Linked DNA regions of Homo sapiens: all the other regions are linked to region 2. Evidence: fine-mapped expression QTL. A gene starts in region 2. Each other region holds a variant in brackets. All regions are shown on one strand. Distances are from middle to middle.

Region 1 (5,127 bases), 210 kb after region 2:
TTTAGCTCAAGACATGCTCTTGGAGCCTTGATTTCTCTATCTTTGAGGCTGCAGGAATGAAATAATTCTGGTATTTTTGCAGCCTGGTGAGGAAATAGGTATCAGAAATCTTTCAGACTTAAACTCTTTCAGTGGCTTAAGAATGTGTAGGAAATACGAAGTCAACAGAAGAGTTTGCCTGAAAGCAATGTTGCCTGGGCTGTTCTGAGAAACAGCTTCTTTCTCAGGACACCTTGAGGGTGGACTGAATTCAAGGAAGATGACTTTCTTTTCCTGGTAGTACTCCAGGAACTGGAGCCTTTCAAAACTACATGACATCATCTTTGGCCTGGAGAATTTTGAATTTAAGCGAGAGGCTTTGCCTGTTCAGAAAACTAGGGTTAGATTCAGAGGATGTCTTAAAAATGATGTCAAAGCCAGAATTTGATGTCAAAGCCTAATCCTTTCAGCAAGGAAAGAGGCTTCTTCCAGATGAAGAACAATGGCCCTGTCTCACTGGTGGCAGGAGAAAGGGTTGCTAACTGACATTCTTAGAAGGCACCACTGTGTATCACCCTGTGCCTTGAGGACAAGATGTACTCAAGACCCATTTCCCAACTCTACCTTCTCTCCAGATACTGCCTCTGGCTTGCCATCAAGTGGTTAGCCAAATGGAAATCACTTTAGCAAACCACCGCCATATGCTGCATCCTGGTAATACCCCAAGCTACTCTTCCAGCATTAATTGCTTCACCAGACACTGAAGTGAAAGCCTTTTTAGTTCATCAGCAAAGATTTATCCAGCTCTACCTCTTCAAATGTAGGTGATCCACATTCTAATGTTTGGAAGGAAAAGTTGGGTACATTGCAAAGGAAGGGTCCTCGTCAATTAATCAAAATGCCAGAATATTGTTTTGTAGGAAATCAAATCCATTCAATATATTTATGCTCTCTCAACCTAAGGATGAAGAAACACTCTATACATTTCCAGCAAAGGCAGAAGAGACTGAGAGAACTGCATATAGCCATTAGTCAAATGCTATAAAGGCTTACAATGAAACTTCTGCTCCTCTTTTTTTTTTTTTTAATTCAATTTGATGGTTGTAGAGGACTGAAATGAAATAATCCATAATCCGCAATTCAAACCAGAAGGTTTGGAATAGTTTATAACCACAAACAAAAACAAGCCAATTAAGATGGCCTCTTTTTATAACCAGAAGGGATTCCAGAGAGATGTCTTTATCCAATCACAAGTTAACCGCAGAAGCAATACATCTACAGCTTTTATACTTGCAGTTTTTTACTATTATTGAATATTTACATTATCCATACTTCTTGACTCATCTCCTGAATTCACACATTTTGTTCTCAAGAGTCAGATAAAAATCTCAGCTAGTAATTAGTACATCTGGTAAAGCTCATGTTAGATACAAAAAACAGACTAAAAGAAGCTACAAATGTTAAATACAAAGAAGAGACTAAAAGATGCTACAAAACAGACTAAAAGATGCTACAAAAGGCAGGTTATCAGATCCTTTCCCCAAAACATTGCCCCAAATATGTAGGAGGCATTTTAGATTAGTGATTGCTAGGAATGGAAAGCCACAAAGAATAATCATTTATAAATCTCTTTCAGCAACGCTACAGAGGGTGAGACAATTGTGTACCAAATTCTCAGTGAGTCAGAATTTGAAGAAAGCCATGATGATCCCATGCAACTCATTTCATCTCCCAGTGCCTCAGTTTTCTCGCTTGTAAAATGAGGCTATGAACTGGGGCACAGCAGGCATACTTTTTTTTTTTTTTTTTTTTTTTTTGCACAAAGGCCAATTTGAGAAAAAATAATTTGAGAGTACTACAGTTCTACACTTCCCCTCATTGAAAACAAAAATAGTTTACTGAGTTCCAACTTAGACTACCATTTTACCAAATGCAAAAATACTTGTCAGAAACTCTCTGCTGCTCTTGAGCC[G/A]AAGGAATATGAGTATTCTACCCTGTTTCTGTAGTAATGGCATGAAGAAAAATCTTTGATACTTGACTTAGATAGGGGTCACACTCTGAAGCTAAGAGCCATGGGAAACACTTGGCTAAGTGTTACTTATCACTGTTATCACTGGATTTGAATTAACATCACCTGGGCAGCTTAAAAGAAAAGGATTCTCTGCTTCTCAGGCCCATGCCCCACCACAGTTTATATCTTGGGGTGGGGGTCTAAACAACCACTTAAAGTTCCCCATTAAAAACATGAGCCCTATTCTTGAGTAGCTTTTAGGAGCCACTGATCTAGAAGACTCTAAGATCTCTTTTGAGTTCTAAATGACTACAAGTCTACACTCGTTTCTGATATCAGATCATGTCAAAGATAAGTGTCCTCTAGTAACTCTGTGATGACAGCTTAAGCCTTCAGACTTTGGATATTATTTGTACATCTCCTGGACTGACTTCAAAATTCAATGCCCATTGAACATCTCACAGTTTTATTAGTCAAAATATGCCAAGAGAAAAATGTATTCTGTACTTATAGGAGGTTCAGAAGCTTAAATGTAGAATAGTGGTGGCAAACTGAAGTATCTGCAGGGCCAATCTATAGCATGAAACATTTAAAAAGAAAGAAAGAAAAAGGAAGAAGGAAGGAAGGAAATGAGGAAGGGATGAAGCAGAAATGCCTTTTAAAATTCTGTTCATGACCAGATGGAGAGCAGATGCCAATTTGATCCTCCATATTCCCCAGCCCCAGTGAAGGGGATCAGAATATGTCACCCCTAAATTATGCCACGTTGGCATAAAGATTATTTTGAGATGAGGGCAACAGAGAACCAACAGATGCAGGAAGAGTTCTCTGCCCTCCCCTTATCTGCCTATCTGCCTAAAAGGAGGGCATAAATTTCCCATTGAGAAGGCGCCCACACAGTACCAGAAAGAGGGGCGACTCTTATCACCAGAGATGGGGAACTGGCAACTTTCCATAGTTCCCACAGCCTAATGAATAACTTTGGGGCATGGCATGGGAGGGCATAGCATCTGGAGGCTCAGCATGAAAGGGCCTAGCATCTGAAGGCCTAACATCAGGGAGCTAGCATCGGAGGACTTTCCTCACTTGGTTCCATCTTCTCTCCATCCTTCTCTCTAGAAACTTCCCTTCAGGGCCACTTGTCCCAGCCACCTCATCACTCTATTTTATGTTTTTCAAACTCTCCATGCCCAACCTTATTCTACCTCCATATATTTTCCCTTATTTGATTCATTCTCTCTTTCTGGAAGGCATAATCCATCATTCATGTCTAAATTTTATCCATTCCCCAGAATTCTTCCCAAATGGCCTCAGAGCCATCAAGCCTTCCTTCTCTCATCTCTACGTGAGTAAGTACTTTACCTGTGTAGGGCACTGACCTTTTTCCACCTTGTTTGATCATTATTGGCTCTCTTGGATGGTAAGCAACTTAAGGACTGAAATTACTGGCCTGACTGAAACCTTGCATCTAACAGTGTCTAAAACAATGCCTCATACACATAAGGTACTCAGTAAATATGTGGTCAGGTGTTTTGCTGATTGTGTGGTCATTCATTCATCCAACAAAAGGATAAATACTATTTGTTCAAAGAGTACTGCAAATGCCCTGAAATTTATTAAACTTTCTTCTGTACATTCTACATCAACTTGCTGTTGCATGGAAAAAAAATCTTTGTGAAGATACAGAAGACACAAAAGCAGGAAAAACTGATTCTGTGAAATTGTTGGCACTCTCCCTATCAGTGAATAACAAAAAGTTCCAGAGTGTGAAAAGACGTTTCATAATATTGTTCAATATCATATAACTATCTGCAGTCATGGTTCATATAAAAACGTATATTCCTATTCTAAACATTAAAAGCTAGACTTGAAAGTCTAGCCTATTGGGTTGACTTCTACGTTTATGAGACTAACCCTGAATAAGTTACCATTTTTTTTTACATGAATGAGGGCTATAATTAGCTCAAGATTTTGCCATAAACTATGAGCTACAGTGGCAAGGAGTTCATATCCTGATCCTATCAAAAGACTCCACTAAGTGAAAAATTACTATTTTTACATAGGTCACTTGATAAAATAAATATTTCAAGTAAATTTATGAATATGAAATGCACATTTTATATGTAGTCCATGTGACTATATTTCTTTATAAACATGTGTACATACGCCATATATGAAACATATTACAAGCACATATTATTCATATGAAAGAATTTTTAGTCGGAATTCATAGCAGATAGCTCAACAGAAAATACCAGATTATCTGAACCACATAATGCTTGTCCTCTTTCCCCATCCCAAGACCCGCACATCAAACCATTATATTAGTTTGTGGAACAATGTGCTTTATCTGGCAAGAAGCACTGGTTATTACGTTTGGGCTAAAATGAATTTCATTTTCTTGACTTTGTGTGTCTTACTGTCATTTTACTATGGTACAGAGATATCCCAGATTACTTCTCAGGGAATGAAAAAATAAGTTCTTATTCAATTGCAAGAAGAAACTACACAACTTAATCTGATCATTGTGTGGAGGAGAAAGTATTCCCAATGACAACATCTTCCTATGTCAATTGATTATATTACAGATGTCATCTCTGTGGGTTATATTTATGCAGCTCTTTCTTATTTAAAGATTTTAATCTCAGTTTGTTGCTGTAATGTTTCATTGGTTCAAAATACATGCTGTAAAAATCCGTGGCCATCAAATTTTCCTGTGGGCTAAAAATAACCCATTGCTGTCAGTTAGAATTAGCTGATAAAGAGTGTCAGAGCCTGTTCCGAATAAGTTTGATAACTTCCTGTTTATGCAGCACTGACCCTTGTCTAATAAAGCTTCTTTGCCCTAGAATGAGAGGAGATTCTGCTGCATTCTATTCCTTAATGGCCAATACTGATTACTTTTGAAAGCCTTTAATACATTTCCCATATTAGACATGAACAGATGTCAGGTATGTTGCCAAGGGAAATTTCTTTTATGCAATCTTGGCTTGTTGTACAATAATAGCCCTTTCTCAACATGGGAAAAAATTACAGACCCAACTAATTTCCCTGACAGGGGAGAGTTACATATGTTTTCCACTTGTAGTTTTTACGACAAGTTTACAATTTTGCCAAACCTGGAACTAATTGGGACT
Region 2 (5,134 bases):
CAACTTTAAAAAACAAGATGGGTATTATATACTTGTTTTATAGATAAGAAAACTGAGTGGCTTGCCCAAGGTAATCGGGCTAATAAATCCTCAGACTCCACATTCCATAGCCTCCTTCTGATTATGTGATGCTTCAGCTATTCATAGACATTCATTTAAGAAAATGCTGCACTTCTGCTTAGCACCTTGACCTCAGTTCCTTCTTTCTCTCTGTTTCTTCCATATATAATTCAAAATATAACTTTAATTTATTCAGTTCAACCTAAACAGATTATCTACAAGATGAACAGATGAGTAAAAGAAAGCACCAAGAGAATTTTTAAGAGGACTTTTTTTTTATAAGAGAGGCTAGGAGGATATTCAAAATCACAAGTTATCTGTTCTGTGTCAAACCACATTTTTCAAAATAATGGATCTGTTGTGTAACAGAGAGCTGATTTTAAGTTCAGTGTTTTCCTTTAGCCTCTTAGTTTAAAACAAGAATACAGAAAATAAGAGAAGAAAAATATACTTTGGCATCTATTGGTATTATCTAGATTGGCTTCTGTAGTTTTTAATTTATTATAATACTATCTGCTATATTAGGGATAACTAATATACGTATATTTTTAATTAGTATTAAATATTGACCTTATAGTGAGAAGTAATATTGGTAGGACAGTAATTCCATCACTCATCCTCTAGCTGAAGCTACTACATCTGGGCAGTTCGGTGGATATCGACCTTCTGTAAGAGCCCAGGGATGATGGGTTAAGAGATGCCCAAATGTTCTCTCTCAGATATTTGAGATGGTAAAACGTAGTACTTCTCACTTTCTGGGAACTGTAAAATAAATAGATTGATAGAGAAATCCTCAAGCTAATGAAGCCACTGCATATGAACTCTTTAAATTTTGTAGTTTCCATGGATGAGTATATTTTATGTGCATTACATACACCAGAGAAAACTGGCTGATGAAATTAGCAGTAACAAGTAAGGACTTGAGGATAAATAAGGAAACATAAGTCCTACTCCAAGGTATTTTAATCATCATATAATAATTAAGTACTTAAGCAATTCCTGGGGACCTCTCCCGGTGTATAATAAAAACAGGACCACATCATAACTTCTTCTCCCAAGAGAAAGGTCTCTTGTAACAACTGTATTCTACAGATAATTACTAAATATGATCTTGCCTAATCTCTTTCTTCTAGTATCATAAATAAATGTATCTCCAGTTAAATATCTGGTTTTAACTCATCAAATACTCCTCTATCAGTGTCCAATTCTAAACTGGTTGACTCACCTCTGTTTTAATGAAGTGCTGGCTTCTACATGTATTTTGATCTGCAACTGAGAGCTGTATGTGTTGTAAGTACTATGTGTCTGATGATGGGCTCGCGGTGTGTTTTTCTTTTGAGTCAGGTACTACAGCTAGGCTCATGCAGCCTCATACTGAGTAGGAGATAATTATACCACAAAGTGGTAGCATAAGACAGAGATGTGCATTGGAGGAAAGGGCACATAATGATTCTGAAATTCAGACCTGTGTTTGTAGAAAACGAGGTGAGCTCCGTGTTGATAATTTTGAACACATATTTTATTGTTGTAAGGATATGGGTCATTCATAATGCAAGGGGACCATCATTCCCAACTGGGAAGCTTCTAGTATCACCTAGTCCAAAAGGTCTTAAAGAGGCATTTTACCTATTTGAGGAAGGGTATCCATTATATTTTTAAAGTACATTCTCAAACCAACTGCTTTTAAAAGGGTCTTGCAGTTAAAATGACCACATAATATCCACTACGGGATAAGTGCAAGATTGGTGCAACATTGGGACAACAGACCCAGACAGGGTCTGTCCCAGGCAAATGAAAAAACATGGGCACCTATTTATGGAGGAAAAATGCCCAAGGGTTTCTAGGCGATGAGGGCTGGAGGGTTGATTTGGTAGACTCTTCAAGAAGAGGCTTCCTCTTGCCTTTTCAAGGGGGAAATAAAGATAAACTAGGGACAATGAATTTTAAGGACTTTTCAAGGGTGTGATATCTTTGCTGCTTTCATTTTGATTTTTAAAAATCCCATGTTTCCCTTTATAATTAACAAAATCCATGAATTAAAATGGGTCTTTGTGCTAATCTTTAGGGCAGCAAGAAATGAGGCTCTTGAGAAATAGTACCCCATTTTGCTATCACCTTAGATGTTGGAGAGGGAAAGAGAGGGCGAGAGAGCTGAAAGAAATCCTTCGCAAGAAAACAAAGTAAGTGGACAGAGTAGTTGGCGGGGAACATCTGGGATTATAAACACTGGGGGCAAAGACAAGACCTTGTGAAATGCCTGACATAGTATCTCACGAACCTGATGAATAAAACCATGATATCTGGGTGACCCTGGTGACAACGCTGGGAAAGGTGAGAGGAAACAGAGAGCGCTGTGTTTGAGAGTAATGTTATTGGTTCTTTAGGAACGAGACCGTGGGCTCTTAGTGACGCTGTGGGTTCCTGAGTTGTCTGGGAGTACAGGGACTGCAGCCTCGAGTCTGTCCAGCTACGATCACTTTGGAAGGCCTTCGGTGGGATGCGGGCAGAAAGCTCCCAGTGCAAAGGGCGTGCCACGAAAACCACCAGCCAGAAACCTGAGCTGGGACAGGTGCGCTCCGCCGCCGAAGCTTTCCCCGCGGCCCCTCCCACTCCCGTCCCAGGCCCGCCCACATCCCTGTCCGGGACTTAAGTCCGGCACCGCCGCCCTCTCCCCCGCCCCGCCGCGCTAGAGCCTGGGGTCTCGGCAACTTCCGGCGGCGGGAGCTGCAGAGCGCAAGGCGCGCCCACTGCGCGTGCGCTTCGGCCCGGCTCCTCCTGCGCCCCCGGCCCCTGCGACTGGGACTTGGTACGGCCGGGCGGTTGGCGTCCTCTGCGGCTCCTGCCAGGGGCGGGCTTTTCAAATCTTCCCTTTGAAGGAGTGGCGACGGCCCGGACAGTTCGCGTTGGAGATGGAGGGGCCGAGCCTGAGGGGTCCTGCGCTCCGCCTGGCGGGGCTTCCCACCCAGCAGGTGAGTTGCGGGAGGGACCCTGCCGCGGAAGGTGAGGGAGCCGGGGTTCTGTTCCTCGCGCATTTGCTTTGTGGAGGAGTCGGGAAAGCCTCTCCCCCGCTCCTCTATTTCAGCGGTGGCCAGAAACAAAGGGAGGGATTAGGAGACTGCGCTCTTGGGGCTCTAAAGGGCCTGGACATCGGAACCCCCGAGTTTCTCAGGCAGCTGAGGTCCGGATTGGGAAGGCGGTGCCGGGGTCCAGGCGCGCGTTTGCGGGCGCACCTGTCCGCTGCCCTCCCCAGGCTTTGGACGCCTGTCTTTTTGCAGGTGTAGGTGATGCCGGGGAAATGGGAGCCCCTCGATTCCCAAGAAACCCAGCGAGGCCAGTGGACAGCTGGCTTATTACGGATTTAATGGGAAGCACAGTAATGGAGCGATGTCTACACACAACACAGAACTGGTTGGGGGGAGGGGGTTCGGAGCGGAGTAGAGGCAAACAGCAACCTCTGCACTTTAGAAAAAGTTGAAGGTTTGATACTGGGTTCTTTCTCAAATCATTTGAAAGGAAAGAGGGAGTACACGTGACATTGGATAGAAGTTTGATGTTTGCTTTTGAGCCATGTAAAATGCGTTAGAAACCTTTTTATTTTACTTTTTACTAAACCAACATTATTTCTTGGCAGCATCAGTTATTAAAATGTTACCACTTTTCACTCTTAACCATAACTTTAGGGTCTTAAAAGAAAACTCTGATGTCTTTAAGCTGGACCTTCACTTCTATTTTAATCTCTACCTTCTTTTACCTACTTCAGAAATAGGTTAAGCCATATGAAATTGCCAGTTTTGTAGGTCAAAATTGGTAGAATATTTGCAATTTCATTCATATGGAGGCACCTGATATCTTTGTTTAAAAATCTGGGATTTCCTTAGCAGACACAAAATTATTAGTTTTCAATAATACTGTGAAAAATAAAGCAAGACATTAAGATTCATTATGCAAAAGAAGTCCAGTGTCTTTATCAGTAATACTTATGCTGTTTTATGCCAGCATTTTCAAAAATTTCAAAGATTTTGATGTACTTTTTTTCAGTCCTGTCCTGTTATGTACTTTGGCTGTCCTGATTGCTAACAAAATCTTGATTTATAGTGAATTGCCATTCTATTGATGTTCTTGCACCTATCATATAGGTGTAGGTGTAGCTGTCCAGGTGTATTTATTGAGCTGCAGGCTGCAAGAATAGGAATGGTACAGAAGCGACAAGAGGATAAAATCATGAAGTTTAGTTGCATGGAATGAAAATAAATGTTTAAATATACATAAAGCCTGGGTTATTTACATGTGGGAAGATACAATACTTAATTTCTTAGGCAGGACAAAATCAAAATGATTGAAATGTGGAATTACTTCCTCAGTTTGGATTTGAAGAAAAAACACAAAATAGTAGTAGGTTGCAACCTAACAGGAATATTGAGAGTCAGATAATTTTATACTTGACTAACACTGAATTTTTATTTGGTATTTCCTTTGATACATGAATGAAGCTGCCACGTAATCGAGATAAGGCCAAAGATTTTGAGGTGGTCACACACTGGTCAAACACCTCTGCTGAAACCCTGGAGTCCTCTGCGACTCCTCACAGCATAGAGTATTGGCTTTGGAGTCAGATTCAGGTCAAACCAAACTCTTCTTGTTGTGCAACCTTGAATAAGTTATCTCTGTTTTCTAAGTTTCAGTTTCCACCGTTGTAGCTTGGGTATTCCGCCTATCCCAGACAGCTGTTGGAATTGGAGAACCTCTCTAAAGTACTTATCACAGCACCTAGCACTCAGGATGTGCTTCAGAGATGACTATTGTTGTTATTATCCTTTGTCCTATTCATCTGAGTGGTTAGGGCAGTCCCCTACTTTTCTTACAAATGTTTAAGCTTTTGGCATCTTAATAAAAATAAAATTCAAAAAGTAATACTATCTCATTGCAGAAAAGTCAACATATACAGAAACATGAATTTAAGAATTCGGTCTCCAGTTCCATTCCCCAGAATGGCCGCTGTTAACAATTTCCAGACTTTTTTCTGTACATAAACAATTCTTAAAATCCACACAGTTTCTTTTAGCAAAATGAGAAC
Region 3 (5,156 bases), 51 kb after region 2:
TACTTTTCCCTCTGCTTGAATTATAAGCCTTAGAATTTCTTTTAGTGAGTTATGCTGATATCAGACTTCTTGTTCTTTTTGTTTATCTGAAGATGGCTTTATTTTGCCTCATTATTGAAGATATTTCTTAATTCTGCAGTTTTAATTTTTTCTTGTTGAATATTGAACATATAATTCCAACATTTTTGGCTTTTATTATTTTACTATAAATGTTGTAAATCATTTGCCAGTATGTCACCACTATGAGTGTAATCTTTTTATTTATTTTTGCCTTTGGTTTTCTAAAATTTTACCATGGTATAATTAGGTGTAGAGTTTATTTATGCTGCTTGGGGTTTCTTGAGCTTCTTTACATTGTTGATATGTTTCATCAGTTTGGACAAAATCTCTCCTACCTGTTTGAAACTGCCTCTGCTGTTGTGTAGCTTTTGTTCTTTTTGCATGCCTGTTAAACCTATGTTAGTCTTTTTCATTGTATCCTTCGTGTTTCTTACTCTTTATGATGTACTTTTCAACTAACTTACAGATTTTTAGAACATAAGCTATTCATAAATCTGAGATTGCCTATATAAAGAAATTTGCTTTCAAACTTCTAAATTTACAAATCACAAAGTTGATTTCAGATGTATTACTGAAATACATGCTTTTACAGAATTTTCATTTCATTTGCTGCCTGTTTTAGGAAAGATAACTTTTGTTTATTTGTGTTTGCATTTTGGAATTGTATGTATTATGCTCGTGCATTTATTTTTCCCAGATTAAGCCCCTTATTTCTAAAATATAGCAGCTTTAAAATGTATTAATGAAAAAGATTTGAATAGTCTCAGAACATTGTTGTGTACTATTCTATAGTAGAATCTTGGGTAGGTAAATTTAAAACTTTTTGGTTTTACTACAAACCTTTGCTGCCTTGCATGTATATATTAACTATTTTTACAAAAAAAATTCTGGGGTAATTAAAACTTTTTGGTGAATAATAGTTACGGCCAGTAGCTAGCGATTTTGTAGGCACTACCAACAGGGCACAGCCAAAACTTTAAAAATCATTTTTATGTGATCCAGTGTGAACTAAGGGCCATATGTTTGGTTTTTATTTATACTCTGATGTCTAGAATAAATTATTTAATGCTTTCCTCCATATAGATAGGTAGTACACAGGTAGGTATCTTCATTAAAGGACTATCTTAATGTTTTTTGAAGTAACTTTTTTAAACAATGTCAAACTTACAGAAAAGTTGCAAGTTGAATGTCAAGATTTTTTTTTTTTAATTAGAGATGGGTATCGGTATATTACCTAGTCTGGCCTCAAACTCCTGGGTGCAAGCACTCCTCCCACCTTGGCCTCTGGAGTAGCTGGGACTACAGGCAGACACCACCACACTCAGCTTAAATGTCAAGATCTTTTTTTTCTCAAAAAAATTATGACAGCAAGTTGCTTACATGATAGTCTGTACCCCAAAATGTATTAATACATATTTCCTACTATCAGGACATTCAGCTACATCATCATCACTCTTGAAGTCAAGAAATGAATACTAATACATTACCACCATATAATCCTCAGAGTCCATTCAAGATGTTGCCCATTGTCACAATAATGTTCTTTATGGCAGAGGGATACAATGCAGAATCATACATTTCATTTAATTATCATGCTTTTTAATTGTCCTTCAATCTGGGCTACTTCTTCATTCATTGGGCTCTAATGTTCGATGTCAGGCTCCTCTTCCCAGGCATATCTCTTTTACCCTGCTTGCTCAAGACAGAGTCCCAAATCTAGGCTGCGCCCCAGTGTCATCACCCTCTCAGGCCCTTCAGGTGCTGATACCTCCTGCAGGCAGCCCCTGCTACTCACCATTCTCATTCTGCCTGTCTCCATCATCCATTTCTAGCACACCACAGCTCCTTCTCCAGTCCTGGCACAGATGTTCATGTTGGGGGCTCTATCTAATGGCTTATGACTGAATTGTTCAGCAAAAGAAGGGGAGGAGGAAGGGCCAAAAATGTTGATGAAGTTATCTTAAGTTCTCTGAAATAATGTTTTTTGTTTTTGTTTTGCTTTGTTTTTGAGATGGAGTCTTGCTTTGTTGCCCAGGCTGAAGTGCAGTGGTGCAGTCTGAGTTCACTGCAACCTCCGCCTCCTGGGCTCAAGCGATTCTTCGGCCTCAGCCTCCCAAGCAGCTGGGACTACAAGCATGCACCACCATGCCCAGCTAATTTTTGTATTTTTAGTAGAGACAGGGTTTCACCATATTGGCCAGGCTGATCTCAAACTCCTGACCTCAAGTGATCCGCCTGCCTCGGCCTCGCAAAGTGAAATAATGTTTTATTCAGAGGATCACTTTTCTAATTATTATAATGAAAATCAGAACAAAAAGTAGAATTTGACAAACATAAATTACTTTATTAGAATGTTTTTATATTAAATGAGATCACTTATATTCTCTGAACAACTTTCATTGAATAATTAAAATCAAACAAGAGACTAAACAGTTCATTTTTATTCAGGTGATAGCATGCTATAAACTGTCAGTTTAATATTATCCTGTCCTTTCTATTCTCATATTTGATTTTCTCACTTAATATGGCACTGGTATTTGGGTAGGATGAATCTTTACATGAAACTAATTCTAAAATATGTTCTGTACAAAGCAAAACAAAATTGTAAAAAGAGAAAAATCAAAATGTATGATGACCTTAAATAAACTTATATTTATAACTTGATTTTTTTTTTTCTTTCTCCTTTAAATAGAGGAGTCTTCATTTTGGCTTCCCCTGTATGGCAACATGTGCTGCCGACTAGTTGCCCAGCCAGCTTGTATGGCTGAGGATGCATTTGCAGGATTTCTTAATCAGCAGGTTAGAGGACTTTAAATATCCTACAACAATTGTAGCTCTACTTTAAATCTTAATATACAGGCAGTTGTTTCACCTTCTGATATTGAGAAGTATTTTTTAAGTCTTTTTTTA[A/G]ATGTCAGTTTTCTAAATGTTATCAGATATAAACTGTAGGGGGTGCGGGGTGAAAAGAATGACAAGGTAGGGAGGGATCTACTGCGATGTTGATGGCTAAGGCGCTACCTCTCCATGCTCCTCTGCTTCATTAATAGCAGCAACAGGATAATCAGCAACAGAGGGCTCCGTGTGGAAACTGATGAGGGCTGCTCAACACCTTTCACATAAAGGTCTTTCTGGCAGACAGCGTTTGGCACGGTTTAGGACTCTGAGCTTCCAAAGCTGCCTGCCTCTGTGCCACCTACTGCTGATTTATTTATAACCATAGTTATTTATATTCAGTAAATAATTAATTGTGAACTTCAATGAATCAATAGCTTTTTCTAAAAGATTCCATTAGGAGGAAAGAAAATTTGCATTCTTAAAGGGTAGTTGACATTTTCCGATGCTCTGAGAACAGTAAGGGAAAATAATATTTTGAACATACAGAATTGTTTTTATAATTTTCCTGAGTCATTTGATGAATTGCTATAGAATTCTAAGCACTAATTTTTAATCGACTAGCTTTTCTAAAACACCATTGATCTATGGTTTTATGTGTGTAAAAGTTAGGTGGTAATCGTTGCCTCCATTTCACTTAATGCCTTTAAGAATTCCAAACTTTTCTTCTCTGATATTAACATACTCTTGGATTTGGGGCAATTAACCTTTTGTATATCAAATTAATGGATAATTCCATCACATTTTAAAAATTCTAAATAACTAATTTAACCTTGATAAGTATTTTGATGTATTTAAAGTGATAATAACTTAAAATTGATAGTCTCTTGATTTTTTTTTTTTTTTTTTCAGCAAATGGTAGAAGGTCTGATTAGTTGGAGAAGGTTGTATTGTGTTTTGCGAGGAGGTAAACTCTATTGTTTTTACAGTCCAGAGGAAATTGAAGCTAAAGTGGAACCAGCTTTGGTAGTACCCATTAACAAGGTAAAGGAAATGCTATTTTGAGAAAAAAATATACATCTTAGGAAGTTTGTTTTTGTCTGTGCAGTTTACATTGTTGTTGTCTTATAAATAAAAGAGAAGTACTGGTAAAAACAGGTTACTTCATAAATATGATTTAATCTGTTTCTGTTTTTCTATTAGAGCTTATCTGTTATAAGAAAATGTATATTTCCTAAGAAAACATAGTAATGGACATCTATACCAGTAAATAGGTTTTAAGGCAGAGAATGTAACTCCACATTAGCAGTATATTTAAATTTTTTATGAATTTACTTAAGAGATTAAACATAAATTGTTAGCTCATGTTATTATAGTGATGCTGTTTCTAGTTAGCATTCAAATGAAGCCATAAAAAGACATTCTTGACTATACTTTCTGATTTCTTATGGGATTGATAGGCAATTGTCCAGTCTTCTGACAGAACAGAAAAGCCTGACAGTCCATTTAGAATAGTTGAGTGCTTATACTGCATTTAAAAAGTAGTACCACACTACCTAGAAAATTTGTCAAGTATATATATACTGGTTTGTTACAAAGGAGACTATTGAAATCTAGCTACAATTTTTTCATCTAGAATCCTATAGGAAAACTTCAATATAAGGCAAACTTAGTTTCTTCTACCTCACGGTCTTAAATTTAGCTTTGTCTGTTATTCAAGTCTAGTGTTGATTAGAGGATTTTTCTTTCCTCATTTTTTAGAGCATTCCTACTCTAAAATAATTGCATTTCTAAACCAAAATATCATGGTTTTTGCCTGTGGGCTGCCCCTAATTGTTTCTAGTTGTTCTACTTTGCTTGTCTTTGGTGTAGTTGAAGTGTGTGATAAAACATGAGCCATCACATTTGTTCTCCTTGTCTTTGAAATTATCCTTTAAAGAAGAATGTAAAGTTGTACGTCCTTTTATATAATAGTTGTATTCCTGAAAACGCGTGGGTACCAGTCTACTGATCTATAAAGACTTGAGTTTAGTTTCATGATCTTTTCCAATAATAACATTTTTGTCTGTTTCTATTCCACTTTTAGAAATTACACTGCTTTTTACTTACAGAAAGTCTTTTAGTGAGACCTTTTATTATATAAATTCACCTAATTTAACTGTTTTGTTTAAACTGTTTTGTTTTGACAAATCAAGGACATAATACATCAGTATTATAATGAATCTATTTTGGCTTAGAAAATTAAGTTTTTGAAATATATAATT
Region 4 (5,156 bases), 28 kb before region 2:
TCCATCTATATGTCTAGTCTACCATCCACAGCACGATGCCTTTCTCCCTCTTGGTAGCAAGACAGCTGCTACAAGTCCAAGCATCACATCAAAGCTCCAGACAGAAAGAAGCAGGGAAAGGCAAGTGCCTTCTATTCATAATGTTTAGTTTAGTTTAGTTTAGTTTTAATTTGACAACAGAAGACTTCCACAGTAAATGGACAGAACAGGGTCAGATGACAATCTTTAGACCAATCACTGACCAGGGGACATCATGACGGCCAAAGAGCTCTTTTTAAAACAAATTGCAAATCATGTCTTCAAATCCTCCAGCAGTTTCCCATTGTAGGTAGGGTAAAAGCCAAAGTGTAGTGGGCCTACACAATCTGACCTCCTCCTACTCATCTTCTGTGTTCCCTGTCTGATTGGGTCTCTTTCTGTTTTCCCCCTCTCTGTTCCAAACCTCCTGGCTTCTTTGCTGGTCTTTGAACACACCCAGGCTGACTTTTCCTCAAGGCCTTCCAGCCTCCAGATACTGGCATGACTCACTCCCTTCTCCTACGGGTCCCCTCTAACCATCCTATGTAAAAGAACCACCATCCCTGACCTCTCAATACATCATTTCCTAGCTCACCTTGCTTAATTGTTCTCCCTAGCCCACCTTCTGACATAGTCTCTTGGCTTATGTACTTAGTTATCGTTCATCTCCTCTCACTAAAATATAAGCTCCTTGAGGGCAAGAACTTTATCTGTTTCATTCAGAGCTGTATCCTTAATGATTACAATTATGCCTGATTCATAGTAAGTACTCAATTAACAATTGTTGAATAAATGAATGAATTACCGCACTAGTCTAAAGTCTCATGATTCACCCTTAGGGTTGAAGAAGAGGCCAATCTTTCCTATGGTCAGGGATCTGTCCTGTCTAACTGAACAAGTCTGACTATTAGCAAGGAAGAGAAGGAGGGAATGGCTACTGACTAGGTAGCTTGTAGTGGCTGCCACAACATTCTTACTTGGGAAGTTGAAACAGTAGAAACATTCTGTTGGTTCCACCCCATTTTTAAAACAACTAAAACCAAAATTATAGTATCTAGAAAACTTCCTGGTAACCAACATTATTGCCACTCTATCTTTTCACCTTTGCCCTTCAACAGGACTAGTGACCTTAGTCCTCTCCCCTTCTGCACTGGATGGTCCTTCCAGGTACATGACACTTCTTAGCTGTCAGCCTTCTCTGCGTTGACTCCCTGAAAGCTTCCACTTCCCAGAGCTACCCTGTGGGCAGTTCCTTTTCCACACCCCAATTCCCACCAGATGTGGAAGATGGAACCCAAAAAATAAGGGGCTCTCCTGTATGTCTTGATCATAAATTCCTAAGAAGCAAACCATTAATAATGGCTTATAGCATGGACTTGAAACAAAATATATTAGAAGGCACATGCAAGAAAACGTTTAGTAACAAAATAATTTCAAAATTATTTAAGTAGAATTCCTAGAAGATAAATTCTCATTCTCTTTATTTACTGATTAGAATCAAGATATCAAGATTTTAGTCCTTGGTCAGCAACTGCCGCTGGAAATGTAATTAGATTCGAAATAACACATTCTAAATTTATCTTTTAACTCTCACAAATTGTATTCTGCCTCTAAACTTTATCCCTGAGCCTCCACTCCTTCTCCCTGGGTTGTTCCAAACTTTCATTTACCTTTATGATTAACCTCAAAAACTTCTCTTTTTAAAGCAAAATGGTGATCTAATGCCAAGAAACTGGGAGCATGGTTCCTGATTCTGTGTTGCATAATTCGAAGAGTGGATGTACCCACAATGTGGAGAACAGTCAGCGGGGTTGTGGGTGGGAAACAAGAGAAAGGAGGACAGATTCCCCTGTCCCCAGCATGCACGGAACATCTGTTCGTTTATATTAAATGGAAAGTCAGGCTCACCACAGCATGGCAACCCAACTTCTGAGGTATAATTGCGTAGTTAATATTCAAAAGAAATAGTATGCTCTGTAAAAACCAACAATTTTCTCTTGGCAAGTGGGACTTTACTTTTGAAATTTTATGTAAGATTAAATAACCACTTATCATCATTTCAGCACTGAATTTCAAAACAGACCTAAAGGTGTTTTGTACTCATTCGGTATTAATAATTAACAGGGAGATGGCCTTCTCATCCCCCGTTCCCTGCTTGGTGCATGTATGCATGGACATGTGTGGTGGACATACATTCATTAAACTAAGAATTGAGTGCCTATGAGTGGGCACTCTAGGTGGAGATGATGGTGTTCAAGATCCATGGGGCCCCTGCTTTCCGAGAGTTTACATTGTGGTGGGAAGTGACAGTAAATAACCATCATACAGGCAGAAAAGTGTCAGATATAGATGAATGACAGGTTCTACAATAAAGGGATATATGTACACTCCCTTGCATGCACATACTCCCCAGCCCCTAACACATGCTATGTTTAGATGTTCAGATAATATGTCTAGGGTTTGATAACACTTTT[T/C]CCCCACTTTAATGCATGTTCTTTCTTGAAATTTGGAGGAAAAAAAAAAACCTATAATGAAAAAAAAAAAATCATCACCACTAATCCCACCATACAGATATACTGGATGCCGCCCATGTGCCCCTGCAAATCCACTCTCCTGCTTTCTTCACCCTGTGTTGTCCCCTCGGAGCCTGATCTGTAGGGGCTGCATCAACCAGCTTCCTTGCCTTGTGCCTTCCAGTTGGGCTTGGACAATGGGAGGCACCAGCAGGAGAGTGGAGGGGTGGAGGAGAGAGACTGGGGTATTTACTCTCCTTGTTCACTCCCTACTGCATCTGTCTATGAAAGGGCTCCTGTCAGACAGCCCACTGCACACAGCCACCCACTTGGGTTCTGGCAATCTCTCTCTTTAAATCCTTCTCACATCTTTGTAAAATGTTCCTTTATTAAATGCTTTTCAAAATACCTAGTCTGAGTGTGCTAACCATATCCTGTCAGGAATCTGACTCAAAGACCAGAGATAATATCTTGTATATTTATTTTCTAATATGTTTCTAGTAACAAATATTTATAGTTTAGCTCATGCTTTTGTCACTTAATGTTATATTGCAAACATTTTGCCATATTATTAAATATTATTTTAAAAGATTACTTACATGGTAATATTTATTCCATTCATAATTTAAGCCTTTATGATTATTGAACACTTGGATTATTTCTATTTATTATATAAACAACTGTGATGAATAGCCTTATTTGTATTTTTATTCTGTTTAAATAGATATTTCCCCACACTGAGGCTATGAATACATTCTTCCATATTGTCTTCCAAAAGCTTTATTGTTTTGTCTTTCATATTTAGACCTACAATATAACTTGTAGTTGATCTTTCTTCTGTATAGGCACTCAGGCTGTCCCAGCACCATCTATTTAAATGACCATCCTTTGTCCATTGCTCTGTAATGCCACCTTTTTCATAAATTAGATATCTGTCTATGCATAGATCTATTTCTGGGCTTCAGTCTATTTCATTGGTCTGTCTAATCTTGTGAAAATACCATACCATTTTAATTAATATAACTTTACAATAAGTCTTGATATCTAACAAAATAGAACCTTTCACCAAGTTCTTTCTTTTCAAAATTGTCTTGACTATTCTTTTATTTCTTTAGGAGCATAGGGAGTGCTGGGAGGGTTTTTCTATTTTGTTTTTAATTTTTTAAAAATAAACATGATAATATTGATTTTTTGAAAGAGTATAGTTCTGTGAATTTTGACACAAATATAGATTCATATAACCACCACCACCAAAGTCAGGATATAGACAGTCCCGCAACACCAAAAAAAAAGTCTCATGCTACCCCTTTGTAGTCATATTCTCCCTCAACCCCAACCCCTGGCAAACACTGGACTGTTCTCCATTGACATAACTCTTTCTTCTTAAAAAGATCATCTACATGGAATCATATAGCATGTAACATTTTGAAATTGGCTTCTTTAACTCAGCACAATGTCTTTGATATACACTCAAGCGGCTGTGTGTATCAATAGTTTGGTTCCTTTTTGTTACTGAGTAGTATTCAATTGGATGTTTGTACCACTGTCCTGTTTACACATTCACTTTTTGAAAGGTGAACCACAGTTTTGTTTACCTATTGACCCTTTGGGTGGTTTCCAATTTTAGCTATTATGAAGAGAACTGCTATAAACATTTGTATATAGATTTTTACTGGAACATAGGTTTTCATTTCACTTGGGTAAATACCTAGGAGTGAGATTGCTGGACCATAAATGTATGTTTAATTTTATGAGAAACTGCCAAACTCTTTTCCACAGTGGTTGTACCATTCTGTATTCACACTGGCAATGTTTGAGAGTTTCCGTGGCAGAACATTTAGAGTTTCAGTGGCAGAACATTTGATATTACCTTTTTTTAAACTTCTAATAGCCTTAAAGTGATATCTCATTTGTTTTAATTGGCATTTCCTATGTGTCTAACAATGTTGAGCATCTTTTCATGTGCATATTTGCCTTTTGTATATTTTTTGTGATGAAGTGTCTAGTCAAGTCTTTTGCTCATTTTTTAACTTAGGGAGTTTGCTTTCGTATTGTTGAATTTTATGTATACTGGATACAGGTCTTTTTTGTAGAATATGCGATTTGAAAATATTTTATCTTACTCTTTAACTTCTCTTTTCATTCTCTTAAGTGTCCTTCACAGAGAAAATATCTTTTAATTTTGATAAATAATCATTTATAAATATTTCCTTTATGAATTATGCTTTTGGTATTATATATATATATAATCCATTTTATATATATATATATATATTAAATGGAAAGACAGGCTCACCACAGCATGATAAACCAACTTCTGAGGTATATATATATATACACATATATATACCTATATATATATATACACACACGTATATATACCTATATATATATACACATATATACCTATATATATATACACACACACATATATATGCCTGAGGTATATATATAAAATATAGATATATATTTTTTCCCTACTCCCAAGTCGTGAAGATTGTTAACCTACGTTTCATTCTAAAAGTGTTAGGTTAAATTATTCATTTAAAATTAATTTTTGAATAAAGTGAGAGGTTTAGGTCAAAATTATTTTGCATGATTTTGTTTTATTTTGTTTTTGCCTAT

Evidence for each region. PIP is the estimated chance that this variant, and not a neighbour inherited with it, causes the effect. A credible set is the group of variants that fine-mapping cannot tell apart.
Region 1: its variant is the best candidate, but not a certain one, in a credible set for the expression of RTKN2 in whole blood (INTERVAL, PIP 0.79).
Region 3: its variant is the best candidate, but not a certain one, in a credible set for the expression of RTKN2 in whole blood (TOPMed, PIP 0.73).
Region 4: its variant is the best candidate, but not a certain one, in a credible set for the expression of RTKN2 in esophagus mucosa (GTEx, PIP 0.59).

Annotation. Positions count from the first base shown.
Region 1 is chr10:62,059,449-62,064,575 of GRCh38, reverse strand. The region is part of intron 7 of ARID5B (AT-rich interaction domain 5B); the gene reads right to left. Among named protein-coding and RNA genes, the nearest start is that of ARID5B, 160 kb to the right of the region's middle. The variant G/A (reference allele first, on the strand shown) is at 1,952.
Region 2 is chr10:62,266,446-62,271,579 of GRCh38, reverse strand. RTKN2 (rhotekin 2) reads left to right here and starts at 2,736. Exons shown (of 12, transcript NM_145307.4): 1 at 2,736-3,029. The coding sequence starts at 2,970. All of the region lies in intron 1 of LINC02621 (long intergenic non-protein coding RNA 2621), which reads right to left. RefSeq lists a silencer at 2,655-2,984.
Region 3 is chr10:62,215,898-62,221,053 of GRCh38, reverse strand. It overlaps RTKN2 (rhotekin 2), which reads left to right. Exons shown (of 12, transcript NM_145307.4): 8 at 2,753-2,859; 9 at 3,805-3,936. Among named protein-coding and RNA genes, the nearest start is that of LINC02621, 41 kb to the left of the region's middle. The variant A/G (reference allele first, on the strand shown) is at 2,971.
Region 4 is chr10:62,294,780-62,299,935 of GRCh38, reverse strand. The region is part of intron 2 of LINC02621 (long intergenic non-protein coding RNA 2621); the gene reads right to left. Among named protein-coding and RNA genes, the nearest start is that of RTKN2, 29 kb to the right of the region's middle. The variant T/C (reference allele first, on the strand shown) is at 2,493.